Linked DNA regions of Homo sapiens: region 2 is linked to region 1. A link means that fine-mapping ties the variant in region 1 to the expression of a gene that starts in the linked region. Tissue or cell type: fibroblasts. Region 1 holds a variant in brackets; the other region holds the start of a gene. All regions are shown on one strand. Distances are between the middles of the regions.

Region 1 (8,356 bases):
GCCTCTCACAAGCAGGGAATCAGGAATGTCAAATGCATTTATTTTGCATAACTTCCTAGACAGTTTATGCCAACTATTAGAAGTAGAGTCCTGGGCCGGGCACAGTGGCTCACACCTGTAGTAATCCCAGCACTTTGGGAGGCTGAGGCGGGCGGATAACGAGGTCAGGAGTTTGAGACCAGCCTGGCCAACATGGTGAAATCCTATCTCTATTAAAAATACAAAAATTAGCTGGGCATGGTGGCAGGTGCCTGTTATCCCAGCTACCTGGGAGGCTGAGGCAGAAGAATGGTTTGAACCCAGGAGGCAGGGTTTACAGTGAGCCACGATCACACCATTACACTCCAGCCTGGGTGACAGGGCGAGAGTCCATCTCAAAAACAAACAAACAAACAAAAAAGTAGTAGAGTTCTTAGCATTTTTGGGTCTAATCATATTAAGCAGCCAACTCCAGAAACTCCAAAACCAATGAAAGAACTCCATCCTTAATATTCTGTTCTTCTAGAACCACTCCTGGTACCAGAATCTGTATTAGTCAGGGTTCTTTAGAGGGACAGAACTAACACCTTCCTCAATACTCTGAAAGGCAGTTTTGGCATTTCATTTTACTTACAGGTCATATCATCTCTAAGCTTTAAGGGCCAACTCAGTGGTATATTAAGATCAAAGGCATGACCGGGCATGATGGCTCACACCTGTAATCCCAGCACTTTGGGAGGCTGAGGTGGTAGACTGGTTGAGCTCAGGAGTTGGAGACCAGCCTGGGCAACATGGCGAAACCCCACTTCTACAAAAATTTAAAAATTAGCTGGGCATGGTGATGCATGCCTGTAGTCCCAGCTACTTGGGAGACTGAGGTGGGAGGATGGCAGGAGCCCAGGGAGGTTGAGGCTGCAGGGAGCCAAGATCACACCACAGCACTCCAACCTGAGTGATAGAGCCAGACTGTTTAAAAAAAAAAAATCTCATTGCTCCCCACCTCTAAAAAAAAATAAAGGCATAGTAAGAGTGCTCCTGTGTCTATAACCTCTCTTTCAGTTTTATATTCAGACCCCTCTCCTTTTCTTCGCTGCCCCTCCCTGAAAATCTTAAGTTCCCTTCTCACACGTGTTCCCCTGGCTCCAGGTGGTCTTGCAGTTCTCTTGATGAGCAAGCTGTTTCTTCCCACAGCTGAGACTATTTCTCTGCTGGGGCTGTGTGACCAGTTATTGGTCCAGAAGCAGTGAGGGGAGGCATGGGCTCATCTTAAGGAGGACAAACATAATTTTGCAAAGCATTCATCCCAGGCAAAGCTTTGCATATTCTCCAGGCAAGGTGCAATTGCTTTCCTCTAGCAAGGGGCAGAGACGCTTGATTTCAGGGGAATCTGGTGGGGAGGTGCCATGTTTTTCAGGTGCTCCAATGTCCCCATCCAAGGTCCCAGAGTCCCACTTCTCTCTCAGGACCCTGACATTAGCATGGAAGACCTGTCAATGCTGAACCCATATGATAAAACCTGAACCTGATTTTAGCTTAATGAACCATCCAGTTGCAGCAGATGAACCCTTAAAGTGCTGCCATGGAGGCCTTCTGACTTTTTTCAGCAAGCCCTAAGTTAGTAATTGGCCTCTCAAATCTGTCATTATCTTTCTCTAAGGCTTCCAAGGCAGGTAACAAAACCCAGCCAACTCCACAATCCTAGTTATTACCACTGCCCCCACACCATTTAAATGTAGGGCTTCTGCATCACCAAATACTTTCCCTTCCACCTGGTTCTTATTCCAATACACAAAAGGTGAGACTTTTCATAATTGGCAGGTTACACTCTGCTACAGCTTATTTCTACCCCACTTACCACTAGCATTGGGTCCTGTGGCTATACACCTGTGAACGATCCAGTTCAAGAATTCCAGTCCTCAAACTCTGCCTCTCTGGGGCCAATTTCAGTAGCAATTTATTTCCTGTTCCCTCAGAAACAGAGCCTGAGAAAAGAACTTCGAGTTCAGGTAGTTTATTTGGGAGGTAATCCCAGAAGCAAATGTGAGCAAATAGAGTGAGGCAGAAAGGGAGGAAAAGCCAATATCAGGGTGCATTCATTGAGGTCAATGCTGTAACTAATGGGATTAGGTTCTACCAGGACCCCCAAGACACATACAGAATTCCCCCTAAAATTGCCAGTCCACTTGCTTCTCTTTGACTGTTGGTTGCTCCTGGGGACTTTACCTCCCTGCACATAGTGCATGCATGAAGATTAAGAAGTTCCTCTCAGAGTTGGAGAAAGGCCTGAGGCAGAAACTAAAAAGCCATGTGGCTTATTTTTGAAACGAGATTCTGTCATGAGCTCACATGAAACTGTCCACTACAACTGTGGCTGAAATTACAGATATGGGACACCAAAATCGTCTGCTACAAGAAGGTTGGAGCAGAATGTTGGGTGAAATCAGGGTGATGATTGCAGCACTGCAACCCTGTACAAGTCTTGCCTTGCCTGTGTTGACTGCCCCAGGGCTTCTTGTTCATTGAGACAATAGCTGGGTGTGGTGACATGCATCTGTAATCCCAGTGCCTTGGGAGGCCAAGGTGGGAAGATGACTTGAGCCCAGGAGTTCGAGGCTGCAGTGAGTTATACTCACACCATGGCACTCCAGCCCGGGTGACCTTGTCTCTTAAAAAAAAAGAAAAATAAATTTAAAAAATATTGAGATAATAAATTCCTTATTCATTTAAGCCACTGTAGTGGGGTTTTCTATCTCTAAAAGTTGAAATTCTGATATATATTAGCATTATTTAAAATACTGTAGAGGATTATTTGAGAAATCCTGCTTTAGATGAAAAAATGAAAAATGATAGGGAAAAGATGGTTTTCTCTTTCTCTATAATCTAATGACTTTCTTCCATATTTTGCCCTTCCATTAAGGTTCTTGATTCTGACTGCCATCACTTTTAAGCATGAAATGTTTATAATTTACTCTGAGAGATTGTGTATTTATTATATGGAATGGGAACCTTTGAATAGGAGATGAGTAAAGTTAGATTAGGGCTGGGCTACTTGAGGTCAATTAGAAATTTGAGGTAATTGAGAAACTTTATTATTTGCAGGCTGTGTGGTGAGAGATAAAGGTGGAAGGGAAGGGACAAGGAGGGATCTATAAGGGGCTTCCAACCCAGAAATGCTGTATGATGGTTTTCCCCATTAAGAAGGGTGGAGATTTAGCTGGGTGTGGTGGCACACACCTTGTAGTCCCAGTTACTTGGGAGGCTGAGGTGGGAGAATCACCTGAGCCTGGGGAGGTTGAGACTGCGGTGAGCTGAGGTTGTACCACTGCACTCCAACTTGGGTGACAGAGTGAGAACACGTCTCAAAAAAAAAAAAAAAAGATAGTCTTAATTTAACAAGACTATCATTTTATGGATAAAAAGGAAATTCAGGCATCAAACCCTTGAAGATGAGACTAAACATTACTTAGGTTTATAGAGATTTATTCAGGCCTGGTCTGAGAAATTGATGAATTGTTTTCAATTTCCAGTTTTTTAGCTGTCTAAGATTATCTGCAATTGCAATCGTGGACATTATTTCCAAGTTAAGTTCAGGAGCACCATTTTTTTTCGTTGTTACCTGAAAATATACTCGTCTACATGCGTGAGTCTACAACAGGGTATTTGTACAGGGGCAGGTGTGTTTGGTTATTTTGTGTGTGCGTGTGTGTGTGTGAGAGAGAGAGAGAGGGAGAGTGAGAGAGAGAGAGAGAGAATATGAGCAAGTGTGGATACTTATTTATTGCTACCATAATTTGTAAGATGCCAGGGAAAGAGATGGGTCAAGTTAAGGTTGAGATCGCTACTGGTCAATCAGCCTCCTTTTCCTAAAAGACCAAGTTTGAGGGTAAAAGAGGAAAAGGAGGTTGGGTCTCATGGTTGATATTCCTTTCTGGCTGATCTTTCTGGATATTTGGTGGCTTTCTGCATAATTTATCAACTTACTTGTTTTTTAATTATGATTGAATGCACATGATGTTAAACTTTTAAATTTTATGAAAAAATGTTTACATTACACATGGGTTTCTGTTCCTAACATTCAGGCTCAGACAAGTGCATTTATGTTATTTTGTATTTTTCAAGATGGCTGTTTTTACATAAAGTCATCCTAGGACATTGAAGATCTGATGAGTATACAATAAAGCATTTGTTTTGTTGCCTGGTGGAACTAATTAAATACACGGACAGACAAACAAGTGAAATCAGGATGCTCCTCTAATTCATCCAAGAAATCTCAAGAGAATGATATCTGTCTCTCTTGATATCTTAATTGCTGTAAATCACTCTGGCTCTTCAAGATCTAAATAATCCACAACAATACACACTTTTAAATGTATTGTTCCTAGGCTAGTAACTTCAAAATTTTTTTTTTCCTATTGGGGAAGGAATTCACACTCCTATATCTAAACTTAGTATGAAGTGGATCCATTCTACAGGTATAAAAATAACATTGAGATAGCATTTGAGGTTCAGCCTGTGTAAGTCAAGATGCCTTGTGTATTGCCTCACATGTAGGCAGGTGTGTACATATTCATTTTCATATAGGAAGGGAAATGGGGGCTGATGTAAA[G/T]ATATAAAAGACCATCTAGGTAGTTCCATCCTGCATTAATTTTAGGGGGTTGTGTGGGTGAAAATTGTTCTCTAAGTCAGGAAGCTCTAGGTTTCAGTGTGTAATAGTCTGTTTTCATGGTGCTATGAAGAAATACCCAAGACTGGGTAATTGATAAAGAAAAGAGGTTTAATTGACTCAGTTCTGCATGGCTGGGGAGGTCTGAGGAAACTTACAATCATGGTGGACACTACCTCTTCACAGGACAGCAGGAGAGAAAATGTGTGCTGAGCTAAGGGGGGAAGCCCCTTATAAAACCATCAGATCTCGTGAGAACTCACTCACTATCATGAGAACAGCATGGGTGAAACTGCCCCCCATGATTCAGTTGTCTCCACGTGGTCCCACCCTTGACAAGTGGAGATTATTACAATCCAAGGTGAGATTTGGGTGGGGATACAGAGCCAAACCGTATCACAGTGTGATCATATTGAGGTCTTCAGAGTAGGAGGCTATACTTATAGAGATGCTGTAGTGGAATTTCTGCGGGCTGACCTGCTTCATCTAACCTCTCTGTGCTTCACTTTCCTCATCTGTAAAATGGGGAAAATAATAGGAAACTTCCTCATGGGTGGTCATAAGGAATAAATGAATTAATACAGATAAAGAATTTAGAATACCACCTGGCTCATAATGAGCACTCAGTAAGCGTTAGCTGCCACCGTGATTACCATCCTCACCATCCCCATCATCATCATCACCATCATCATCGTCATGTCATGGGTAGACTCCTGGATGTGAGACTAAATTAAGCTTTAATAAACATGACTCTATTAACTTGTACCCCAACAAACTGAAGGAATTCAGGTGACAAAAAGTAATTAAGATACCCGATAGCTGACTTTTATAATTGTTCGCTAATTTTTCTGTATAACTCTCCTGATAATCTTTATGAGATAAGGTATTATGGCATGAATTGTGCCCCCCTAAAAGATATACTGAAGTCCAATCACCTGTACCTCAGAATTTGATCTTATTTGGAAATAGGGTGGTTACTGATGTGGTTAGTGAAGCTAAGATCATGTTGGAGTAGGATGGGCTTTTTACAATTTTTTATATATTATATATATTTATTATACTTTAAGTTCTAGGGTACATGTGCACAGCGTGCAGGTTAGTTACATATGTATACATGTGCCATGTTGGTGTGCTGCACCCATTAACTCGTCATTTAGCATTAGGTATATCTAGTAATTCTATCCCTGCCCCCTCCCCCCACCCCATAACAGGCCCCGGTGAGTGGTGTTCCCCTTCCTGTGTCCAAGTGTTCTCATTGTTCAATTCCCACCTATGAGTGAGAACATGCAGTGTTTGGTTTTTTCACCTTGCGATAGTTTGCTGAGAATGATGGTTTCCAGCTTCACCCATGTCCCTACAAAGGACATGAACTCATCATTTTTTATGGCTGCATAGTATTCCATGGTGTATATGTGCCACATTTTCTTAATCCAGTCTATCATTGTTGGACATTTGGGTTGGTTCCAAGTCTTTGCTATTGTGAATAGTGCCACAATAAACATACGTGTGCATGTGTCTTTATAGCAGCATGATTTATAATCCTTTGGGTATATACCCAGTAATGGGATGGCTGGGTCAAATGGTATTTCTAGTTTTAGATCCTTGAGGAATCGCCATACTGTCTTCCACAATGGTTGAACTAGTTTACAGTCCCATCAACAGTGTAAAAGTGTTCCTATTTCTCCACATCCTCTCCAGCACCTGTTTCCTGACTTTTTAATGATCACCACTCTAACTGGTGTGAGATGGTATCTCCTTGTGGTTTTGATTTGCATTTCTCTGATGGCCAGTGATGGTGAGCATTTTTTCATGTGTCTGTTGGCTGCATAAATGTCTTCTTTTGAAAAGTGCCTGTTTATATCCTTAACCCACTTGTTGATGGGGTTGTTTGTTTTTTTCTTGTAAATTTGTTTGAGTTTTTTGTAGAAGGATGGGCTTTTAATCCCATGTGACTGGTGTATTTTTTGGTAGAAGGAAATTTGGACACAAGAATACACAGAGGGAAGCAGATGTGGAGAAACACGAGAGAAGTCAGCCATGCGATAATGGGGGCAGATATTGGAGTGATACATCTCCATGCCAAGCAATGCCATTGGCTGCTGGCAATATCATCAACTAAAGGAGCAAGGAAGGATTCTCTCCTACAGGTTTCAGAGGCAGCACGGCCCTGTGCATATCTGGATTTCAGACTTCTAACTTCCAGAACTGTGAACCAATAAATTTCTGTTGTTGTAAGACACCCTGTTTGTGGTACTTTGTCACAGCAATCCTAGAACTAATCCAAAACGGAGTGGAAACATACCATTGAGGGGATGACAGAGCACTCAGGCTTAACCAATCAGGCTGCTGATTGATGATAGTATGATGTTCAAATGCTAAAAGCTTCCACTTTACATTTTTTTGATGGTTTTAAACCAATCTGATTTTTTTCCCCTCTCATTTTAATCTATCTCCATGATCTGTTATTCTGGGAAAACTTTCCTAACCTTTGTATAAGTGGTGAGCTTATGGACATACATTCTTTCCTATCAGACATTTGAACAAATCTCCTAAAATTTCCTCCTTTCCTCCCTTCCTTCCTTCTTTCCCTCTCTCCTTCCCTTCTCTGTTTCTCCCTCCCTTTCTTTCTTTCTTCCTTCCTTCCTGTCCTCCCTCCCTCCTTTCTTCCCTTCTCTCTCCTTCCCTCCCTTTCTTCCTTCCAGCAGGGCAGAGGGCCAAAGCAATAGGCAACCTTGTGTAGATTGCTCAAAGTCATGATCACTCCTCTTCTGTGGCTTTTTATTTTATTTTATTTTGAAGCAGAGTCTCGCTCTGCCACCCAGGCTGGAGTGCAATGGTGCCATCTCGGCTCACTGCAACCTCCACCTGCTGGGTTCAAGCAATTCTCCTGTCTCAGCCTCCAGAGTAGCTGGGATTACAGGTGCCTGCCACCATGCCTAGCTAATTTTTGTATTTTTAGTAGAGACTGTGTTTCACCATGTTGGCCAGTCTGCTCTCGATCTCCTGGCCTCAAGTGATCCATGCCTCGGCCTCCCAAAGTGCTGGGATTACAGGCATGAGCCACTGTACCTGGCCTTCTATGGCTCTTTAGAAAGGTAGGGATACTCCTGGTCTTTTGTGTTGATTTCCCCACCAAGATTTTTCCCTCTTCTTCACCCAACATCAATACCATTTGATTATTTTCAGAGCAAAAGCAGCCTCTTTTTGTGCTGCAGGCATCAACTAGATCCTTCCCCCACATGCCCCATATATTGATACCACTTAAATATTCCTATTTTCCAAAATCAGCTATTGGGCATCTGTCATGTTTCGGAACCAGTCTAATCTTTCCAGTGATACTCTCAGATTCAGGGTGGGCCAGCCAAGATTTGTTTTCAATACTCTTTCTGGTGACTTGGAAAATTCTTCTAGAATTACCAGTAAGTCCTACTTTCATTTTGCACAAATTACCATACAGTCAAATTTAAAATTTCATAGATGCCTAACCTGTAATAGAAGAAAAATGCAAAGTTTATAAAAGTATCTTTAACTCATTAACTAATTTTCTCTTGACTCATGTTTACTGCTCCTCAAGTTCCATAGGATGATAAGGTTTCATTTAAGTCAGCAGGGCGATTTTTTGGGGGTAGTTTTCATGACTATTCCTAAAAACACATTCTTCAGAAAATTTGTAGTAAGCATTACATTCTTTTCATCAGTAAAAATGTGTGGCCA
Region 2 (8,356 bases), 300 kb before region 1:
CACTGTCTGCTCAAATAAACATTTTAAGATTTTACTGTGCCTTAGTTTCTCTTTTAACAATGGTAATGATGTGGAAACATTTATCTGACAAATGTTTTTGAGAGGTATCAATTATGTAATATTCACTGACAAGGTTTACACCTATGCTGGTATTAAACAGAGACCATAATCATCTTCTTTAAATAATTGTATTAATCTAACATAGTCTTTATGATTATCTAAAAATATTTAGATCATTCTTTTTTGTTTGTTTGTTTTTGTTTTTGAGACAGGGTCTCACTCTGTTGCCCAGACTGGAGTGCAGTGGCGCAATCTCAGCTCACCGCAACCTCTGCCTCCTGCCTCAGCCTCCAGAGTAGCTGGGATTACAGGTGCACACCACCATACCCAGCTAATGTTTGTATTTTTAGTAGAGACAGGGTTTCACTATGTTGACCAGGCTGGTTTCGAACTCCTGACCTCAAATGATCCACCCGCCTTGGCCTCCCAAAGTGCTGGGATTATAGGCGTGAGTCACCATGCCCAGCCACATATTTAGATCATTCTAAAGAATACATTCATAGAAGAATCTTGTTTATAGTATTCAGGATTCCTTCCTTCCTTCCTTCCTTCCTTCCTTCCTTCCTTCCTTCCTTCCTTCCTTCCTTCCTTCTTCCTTTCCTTCCTTCCTTCTTCCTTTCCTTCCTTCGCTCCCTCCCTCCCTCTTTTCTTTCTTTCTTTGAGACGGAGTCTTATTCTGTCACCTAGGCTGGAGTGCAGTGGAGCAAACTCAACTCACTGCAACGTCTGCCTCACTGCAACCCAGCCTGGGCCACTATTTTAAAAATATAACATTTGAAGCCAGGCACGGTAACTCATGCCTGTAATCCCTGCACTTTGGGAGGGCAAGGCGGGCAGACCACTTGAGGCCAGTTCAAGACCAGCATGGGCAACATGGTGAAAACCCATCTCTACTAAAAATACAAAAAAAAAAAAAAAAATTAGCCAGCGTGGTGGTGGTGCACGCCTGCAATCCCAGCTACTTGAGAGGCTGAGGCATGAGAATAGCTTGAATCTGGGAGGCTGAGGTTGCAGTGAGCCAAGATCATGGCACTGCACTGCAGCCTGGGTGACAGAGCAAGGCTCTATCTTAAAATATATATATATATATATATTTATATTTATATATGTTTATATTTATATTTAAATATATATATTTATATTATATATATGAGTTGTGTCTTTAACAGCAAACAAAAGTTAGCCAGGGGAAGGTCGAGAATGCAAAAGGAAGAGCACTCACAAAGCCGAGGTATAAAGATGTTTAAGGAAGAAAAAGGAACTTGATAACGTTGGGAAGTAAATAAGTAAGGTAAATAGGAACTTAATTTGAAAGGCCTACAATGCTATTCTAGGGAGCAATAGTGGTCATTCATTGATGAATCAAAAGAACAATTTTGCCTTCTCTGCTCTTGTCTCCAGGCTGTGGTTACACAGCAGTACACATTGGAGATACTGGGCTCCACATTTAGCTGGAAGACATGCCATGTCTTCTTGAGTTCCCTCTAATCTTCCTCTCCCATTGCGCATAAAGGATCTTCAAACCTTCTCCGCACTCATGCCCCTTGTCCTACCACCTCCACAGCTCCTTCTCTACAGAAAAACTTGCCTTTTATTTCACAGAAGAAATGCAACCTAGAGGCCAAAGCAGGCAGATCACTTGAGCTGAGAAGTTTGAGATCAGCCTGGGGAACAAAGTGAGACCCCGCCTCTACAAAAATTACAAAAATTAGCTGGACAAGATGATTCATGTCTGTCGTCTCAGCTACTCGGGAGGCTGAGGTGAGAGCATCGCTTGAGCCCGGCAGGCGGAGGTTGCAGTGAGCTGAGATCATGCCGCTGCACTCCAGCCTGGGTGACAGAGTGAGACCGTCTCAAAAAAACAAAACCAAAAAACCCAACAACAACAACAATAACAAATCACACACAGGGTTTTGTGTCATGTTAATTTTTTTTTTTTAAACAGGGTATCATGCTGTCGCCCAGGTTGGTGCAATCTTGGCTCACTACAAATTCTCGGGCTCAAGTGAGGCTCCCACCTCAGCTTCCCGAGTAGCTGAGACTACAGGCCTGCACCACCACGCCTGGCTAATTTTTGTATTTTTTGTAGAGACGGGGTCTCACTTTGTTGCCCAGGTTGATCTCAAACTTCTCAGCTCAAGTGATCCGCTCGCCTTGGCCTCTCAAAGTGCTGGGATTACAGGCATGAGCCACCTCTCCAGGCCATGTCCATCCTATTAACATTTGGAAGTGCCTAGCACAGTGTACTCTTTAGAATTGTGGAATAACAATGATTGATGAAATGAAACATATACTTGAAGATGCTACTAGGGTATACGAGATTTTTTTTCTGACTTAGAACTACATCAAAGAAAGAAGGGCCTAAGACCAAGGTTTGGGAATGTACACAATGAATTGCTCAAAAGAGAGTTAGCTTTAGTAATGACAGGAAGAAGCTATTTCTTCAACCAAACAGAATACACACAGAAAAATTTAAAAGAGCCATTACACTGGCTGGCAAAACAGATGTGGATATTATGGCCCTGGTACACACGGAGTTTATAGTCAGGTACACTGTCCTGTCACAACGACCAATACGTTATCGTATTTACAGCGTTTTGGAGTTTCTGTCCATCTCTGTCAATATAATACACTTTGAAATAAGTTTCTTACTTAGAATCCCTAGCAGTGTTTGATACACAGTTGGAGCTCAATAAATGTTTACGGAGTGAATGATGAGGCACAAAAGGAATTTGTTGAATTATTTGTTAAATGAATCAAATAATTTTCTAGGATTCACGGGCTGTCTTCTGCACGATAAGCTTCATTCTGTGGGTCTGAGTTTCTCCTGGTTCTCAATTCTGTCTTTTTGTGGATTATCTACTTTGTAGCTGGAGCTTTGTATCTGTTTAAGATAATTATTCTTCTATTCCTTTTTTTTTTTTTTTTTTTTTGAGACGGAGTCTCGCTCTGCCGCCCAGGCTGGAGTGCAGTAGCGCGATCTCGGCTCACTGCAACCTCCGCCTCCTGGGTTCACGCCACTCTCCTGCCTCAGTCTCCCAAGTAGCTGAGACTACAGGCGCCCACCACCACGCCCGGCTAATTTTTTGTATTTTTAGTAGAGACGGGGTTTCCCCGTGTTAGCCAGGATGGTCTCGATCTCCTGACCTTGTGATCCGCCCGCCTCTGCCTCCCAGAGTGCTGGGATTACAGGCGTGAGCCTCCGCGCCCGGCTCTTCTATTCTTAGTAGAAGCAACCAGTAGCCCTAGCGAAACCAGACGTTAATTCCATTCTCGCAGTTCTTTTCCCCAGGGCAAGCAGCAAAAAATGCATTCCCACAAAAGAGCAAGCTCATCCCCAAATCCCGGGTTTCCCACCCCCACAAGCTTCAGGAAAACAGGAGCGAGGCACGTGAATACTTCTTTGGACCTCAGCGATCCCAGAACCTAGGCTACTAAAACATCCATAGGCTTAACCTCATCATATAACTTAAACAGCCTTCGCAACACCGAGAGCACCACACCAACACCTTCTTATCCAGCCCTGGTTGGGACAAGGGCTCCAACTCCAGACTGCAGTCCTCGGTAGCGCGGTGTCTTCTGGGATCTGTAGGCTCCCGCGGTTCGGCCTTCCTCCCTCTGTGACTCCAATTCCCGGCAGTCAGTGGGCTCCAAGGTCCGCCCTTTTTCTGGAGGAGGAGCTCAGAGCGTACGGGAGGGGGCGGACCCTTGCCCCTCCGGCGCTTGGGCCAGAGTGGTGCGGGCGGCGCGTGGCGGCGATCCCCACGTGGTGGCTTTCTCACGCTAGCCCTCTTTGGTCCTCCTTGACGTCCCGGGCCTGTGGGCCCGCTTTCTGCCGAGATGCCGAAGGTCAAGTCGGGGGCCATCGGCCGCCGCCGCGGGCGGCAGGAGCAGCGCCGGGAGCTGAAGAGCGCTGGAGGTGCGGATCCCCGCGAGGAAGCTGGGGTCGGTCGGGTCAGGTCTTCCGGCAGGACCTAGCCTGGGGTGCGGACCAAGACCTGATCGGCAGAGGCCGGTCAGGACGCGCTCCCGTGAGCGCGGAAGGCAGGGGTGGGTCCCCGACTCGGCCGCAGGCCCTGCGCGTCGCCGCTGACTTCCTTTCCAGCTGGAGGATGAACTTATAAAGAGTTTGTCAGTCCTGGCGTGACGTTTCGTGGCCCTGGTTGGCGCAGAAATCTTCCCCATACCCATGCAGCTTTCTTCTCTGGTACTGCCTAATATCTAATCTCAGTAGGAAAATTAATGCTGTTTCGTATTTTCTTACAGGACTCATGTTCAACACGGGGATTGGGCAGCACATTTTGAAAAATCCTCTCATTATTAACAGCATTATCGATAAGGTGGGTGTGGAAGAGGAAAGGGAGAGAGTTGTTGGTTTATTAATTTTATTCCTATGAATACATAAGCGCAGAAAGTCTGCCTGCCGTAAATTAGATGCTCTGTAAATATTTGTTGAATGAATCAAATAATTGTCTAGGATTCTTGGGCTGTCTTCTGCATGATAAGCTTCATTTTGTGGGTCTGAGTTTCTCCTGGTTCCCAATTCTGTGTCTTTTTGTGGATTATCTACTTTATAGCTGGACCTTTGTATTTGTTCAAGATAATTATTCTTCTATTTCTAATCACCTTTTTGATCACTTAGTTTTTATGTACTCCATCTATTTATGTCTAAACTACACATTAGAAAGTTTGTTCCCCAGAAAAACATATAGTACTACATATAAATTATTTGGTGTATGCTAGTACCACATATAAATTGCTTGGAGTATTACTGCTTTCTGAGTTATTGATGTTCTCTTATGGTTATGGATGATTGGGTGTTAGGAAGTGAAATACACACGGTGCAGATTACACTTATGGTTAAAAGCAAGGAAAGCATCCTGGAGCTGTAGAAAGAGCATTACATAGTTAAAGGATCTTGTCAGGCTTCGTGTCATTTGAAAACTGAGAAAAAAAGAAAGAAGGGTCATGTACTATTTTAACCTTTTTAGCTCATAGTTTCCTTTGAGCATCTGATGAAAGCTATGGCCGTAGAATATTAGAGCTGTGTGCAGACATTCAATTTTGTGTACAGTTTCTGCTCTTCTGCATCCTTGAAACCATACATGGGTTGAAAATTGAAAAATCTTCGCCCAACACGTACAGTCCTTTCCCATTTGAACTTGTTGATACGAACAGAGAAGGTAACAAGAGGCTATTGGAATATTTCCAGATAGAAAGCAGAATGCCAATCCCAGAAATGCTGTTGCTGCTTTTCTGACTCCTAAAGTTGAACAGTATTCCTCCAAGTTAGGAGAGGTCTTAGATTTTCATTTGCACCAAATGTTATTGAGGTAATTTTGTTAACCACGTAGATCATGAAGAAATCTAAAAATGGAGTCAGATTAAGAGCTCTTATCGGAGCACATATGAGTAAAGATGTTCAGGTGTAAATTAACTTCTGTGTTCTGATGTTGCCAGAAGAGCTAAAGTGTTTGTGCTTGCTTTTAGGCTGCCTTAAGACCAACTGATGTAGTGCTGGAAGTTGGACCTGGAACTGGCAACATGACTGTAAAGTTGTTAGAAAAGGCAAAAAAGGTAGAAAGGGGATTTAATGTTTGGTATCACAAATGACTATGTTAGCAAGCTCAGTTGGTTTACAATCTAAATATGTTTTAACTAATTGCTATTATTTTAGTAGTAACTCCTGATCCCTTGTTGGAAATTTTGTCTTAGAAAATATGAGATATTTCAGCCAGGCGCGGTGGCTCACGCCTGTAATCCCAGCACTTTGGGAGGCCGAGGCAGGTGGATCATGAGGTCAAGAGATTGAGACCATCCTGGGCAATATGGTGAAACCCCATCTCAACTAAAAATACAAAAATTAGCCGAGTGTGGTGGCAGGTGCCTGTAGTCCCAGCTACTTGGGAGGCTGGGGCAGGAGAATCACTTGAACCCGGAAGGCAGAGGTTGCAGTGAGCCAGGATTGCACCACTGCACTCCAGCCTGGTGACAGAGTGAGACTCTGTCTCAAAAAAAAAAAAAAAAAAAAAGGAAAATATGAGATATTTCAGTGAGGAAAACAGAAACCACATTAGGTATTTCAACAGGGAATTTTTTTTTTTTTTTTTTTTTTTTGGAGAGGGAATTTCACACTGTTCCCCAGGCTGGAGTGCAGAGATGCAGTCCTGGCTCACAGCAACCTCTGCCTCCTGGGTTCAAGAGATTCTCCTGCCTCAGCCTCCCCAGTAGCTGAGATTATAGGCACCTGCCCCCACACCAGCTAATTTTTGTATTTTTAGTAGAGATGCGGTTTCACCATGTTGGCCACACTGGTCTTAAACTCCTGACCTCAGGTGATCCGCCAACTTTGGCTTCCCAAAGTGCTGGGATTACAGGCATGAACCACCATGCCCAGCCTCAACAGGGAGTTTAATTAGGAAGGAAATACCCAACGCCTCCCCTTTGTACCCTATAATGCTGGTGCCTTTCACTGGCCAATTCCAACCAGAAGTTGAAAGGTAAGGGAGCTGAACTGCATTATCTGTAGGATGCAGAGAAAAGCGGATAATAGATCTGGGAGGGCCTTTCATGGTGGCTCACACCTGTAATCCCAGCACTTTGGGAGGCTAAGGCGGGTGGATGGCTTGAGCCTAGGAGTTGAAGACCAGCCTGGGCAACATGGTGAAACCCCATCTCTACAAAAAATTGGCTGGGCATGGTGGTGCCTGACTGTAGCCCTGGCTAGCAGGGAGGCTGAGGTGGGAGGTTTACCTGAGCCTGGGAAGTTGAGGCTCCAGTGAGCCATGATCCTGCCACTTCACTACAGCCTGGGTGACACAGTGAGACCCTGTCTCAAAAAATAAAAATAAAACTAAAGATAGATCTGGGAGCCAAACAGAGTAAGAAACACATTGTTTACCATGTAAACAGGGTCTATATAGAAGTAGGGCCAGGAGCTGTGGCCCACATCTGTAATCCCAGCACTTTGGGAGGCTGAGGCAGGAAGATTGCTTAAAGCTATGAGCTTGAGACCAGCCTGGGCAACAAAGCGAGACCCAATCTCTATAAAAAATAAAAAGGCTGGGCATGGTGCCTCCCGCCTATAATCCCAGCACTTTGGGAGGCCAAGGTGGGAGGATTGTTTGAGCCCAGGAGTTTTGAGACCAGCCCGGGCAACATAGAGAGACCCGTCTCTATTAAAAATAAAGAAAGGAAATTAGCCTGGTGTGCTGGTACACACCTGTGGTCCCAGCTGCACAGGAAGGTGAGGTGGGAGGATCCCATGAGCCCAAGACTTCGAGGCAGCAGTGAGCTATGATAGCGCCACTTCACTCCAGCCTGGGCAACAGAGTGAGACCCCATCTCTTAAAAAAAATTATTTTTTAATAAAAATAAAGTCAGTGAAACCTCAGCTGAAATTGCAATAAAATTTCAATTTCGGCCTTATTTGACATCCATTTTCATTTACTTGAGAAGTTATCTATGCCATGTATTGTGTATCTCAGTAGATGTGACATACTAACAGTAAGAGCAATTGCATTGTACGCTCTTCTCTAACAACACTGACTGCAGAGACATGTAGTGTATTTTTTTCATCATCTGTTGAATTACAAAGCATGGAGACAGATGAAACATGATTCTATTGATTATATGAGTAGAACTCTCACATAATCTGGTTGTCTACTTTTCTGGGTGGTGGTGTTTGTTTGTTTGTTTGTTTGTTTTTGAGATGGAGTCTCGCTCTGTTGCCAGGCTGGAGTGCTGTGGCGCGATCTCGGCTCACTGCAACCTCTGACTCCCTGGTTCAAACAATTCTCCTGCTTCAGCCTCCTGAGTAGCTGGGATTACAGGCACGTGCCGCCACGCCCAGATAATTTTTGAATTTGTTAGTAGAGACAGAGTTTTACCATGTTGGCCAGGCTGGTCTCAGTCTCCTGAACTCATGATCCGCCCACCTCAGCCTCACACCCGGCTTTTTTTTTTTTTTGAGATGGAGTCTCACTTTGTCACCCAGGCTGGAATGCAGTGGCACAGTCTTGGCTCATGGCAACCTCCGCCTCCAGGGTTCAAGCAATTCTCCTGCCTCAGCCTCCTGAGTAGCTGGGATTACAGGCGCCCACCACTAGGCCCAGCTAATATTTTGTGTTGTTTTTGTTTTTGTTTTGAGACAAGAGTCTCTGTCTCTTGCCCAAGCTGGAGTGCAATGGTGCGATCTCGACTCACTGCAACCTCTGCCTCCCAGTTTCAAGCAATTCTCCTGCCTCAGCCTCCCGAGTAGCTGGGATTACAGATGCCCATCACTGTACCCAGCTAA

Which allele goes with the higher level. Positions count from the first base shown, and alleles are read on the strand shown. Sizes are in standard deviations (SD) of each study's normalised expression.
As copies of T replace G in region 1, the expression in fibroblasts of the gene that starts at base 3,768 in region 2 goes up (moderate effect, 0.60 SD a copy in GTEx).

What was found. PIP is the estimated chance that this variant, and not a neighbour inherited with it, causes the effect.
Region 2: DIMT1 starts here. The variant in region 1 is fine-mapped to the expression of DIMT1 in fibroblasts (GTEx, PIP 0.95).

What each region holds. Positions count from the first base shown.
Region 1 is chr5:62,094,520-62,102,875 of GRCh38, reverse strand. All of the region lies in intron 1 of LOC124900610 (a long non-coding RNA gene), which reads left to right. Among named protein-coding and RNA genes, the nearest start is that of KIF2A, 210 kb to the left of the region's middle. The variant G/T (reference allele first, on the strand shown) is at 4,586.
Region 2 is chr5:62,399,317-62,407,672 of GRCh38, reverse strand. It overlaps DIMT1 (DIM1 rRNA methyltransferase and ribosome maturation factor), which reads left to right and starts at 3,768. Exons shown (of 12, transcript NM_014473.4): 1 at 3,768-3,979; 2 at 4,327-4,400; 3 at 5,551-5,637. The coding sequence starts at 3,901. RefSeq lists an enhancer at 3,558-3,847.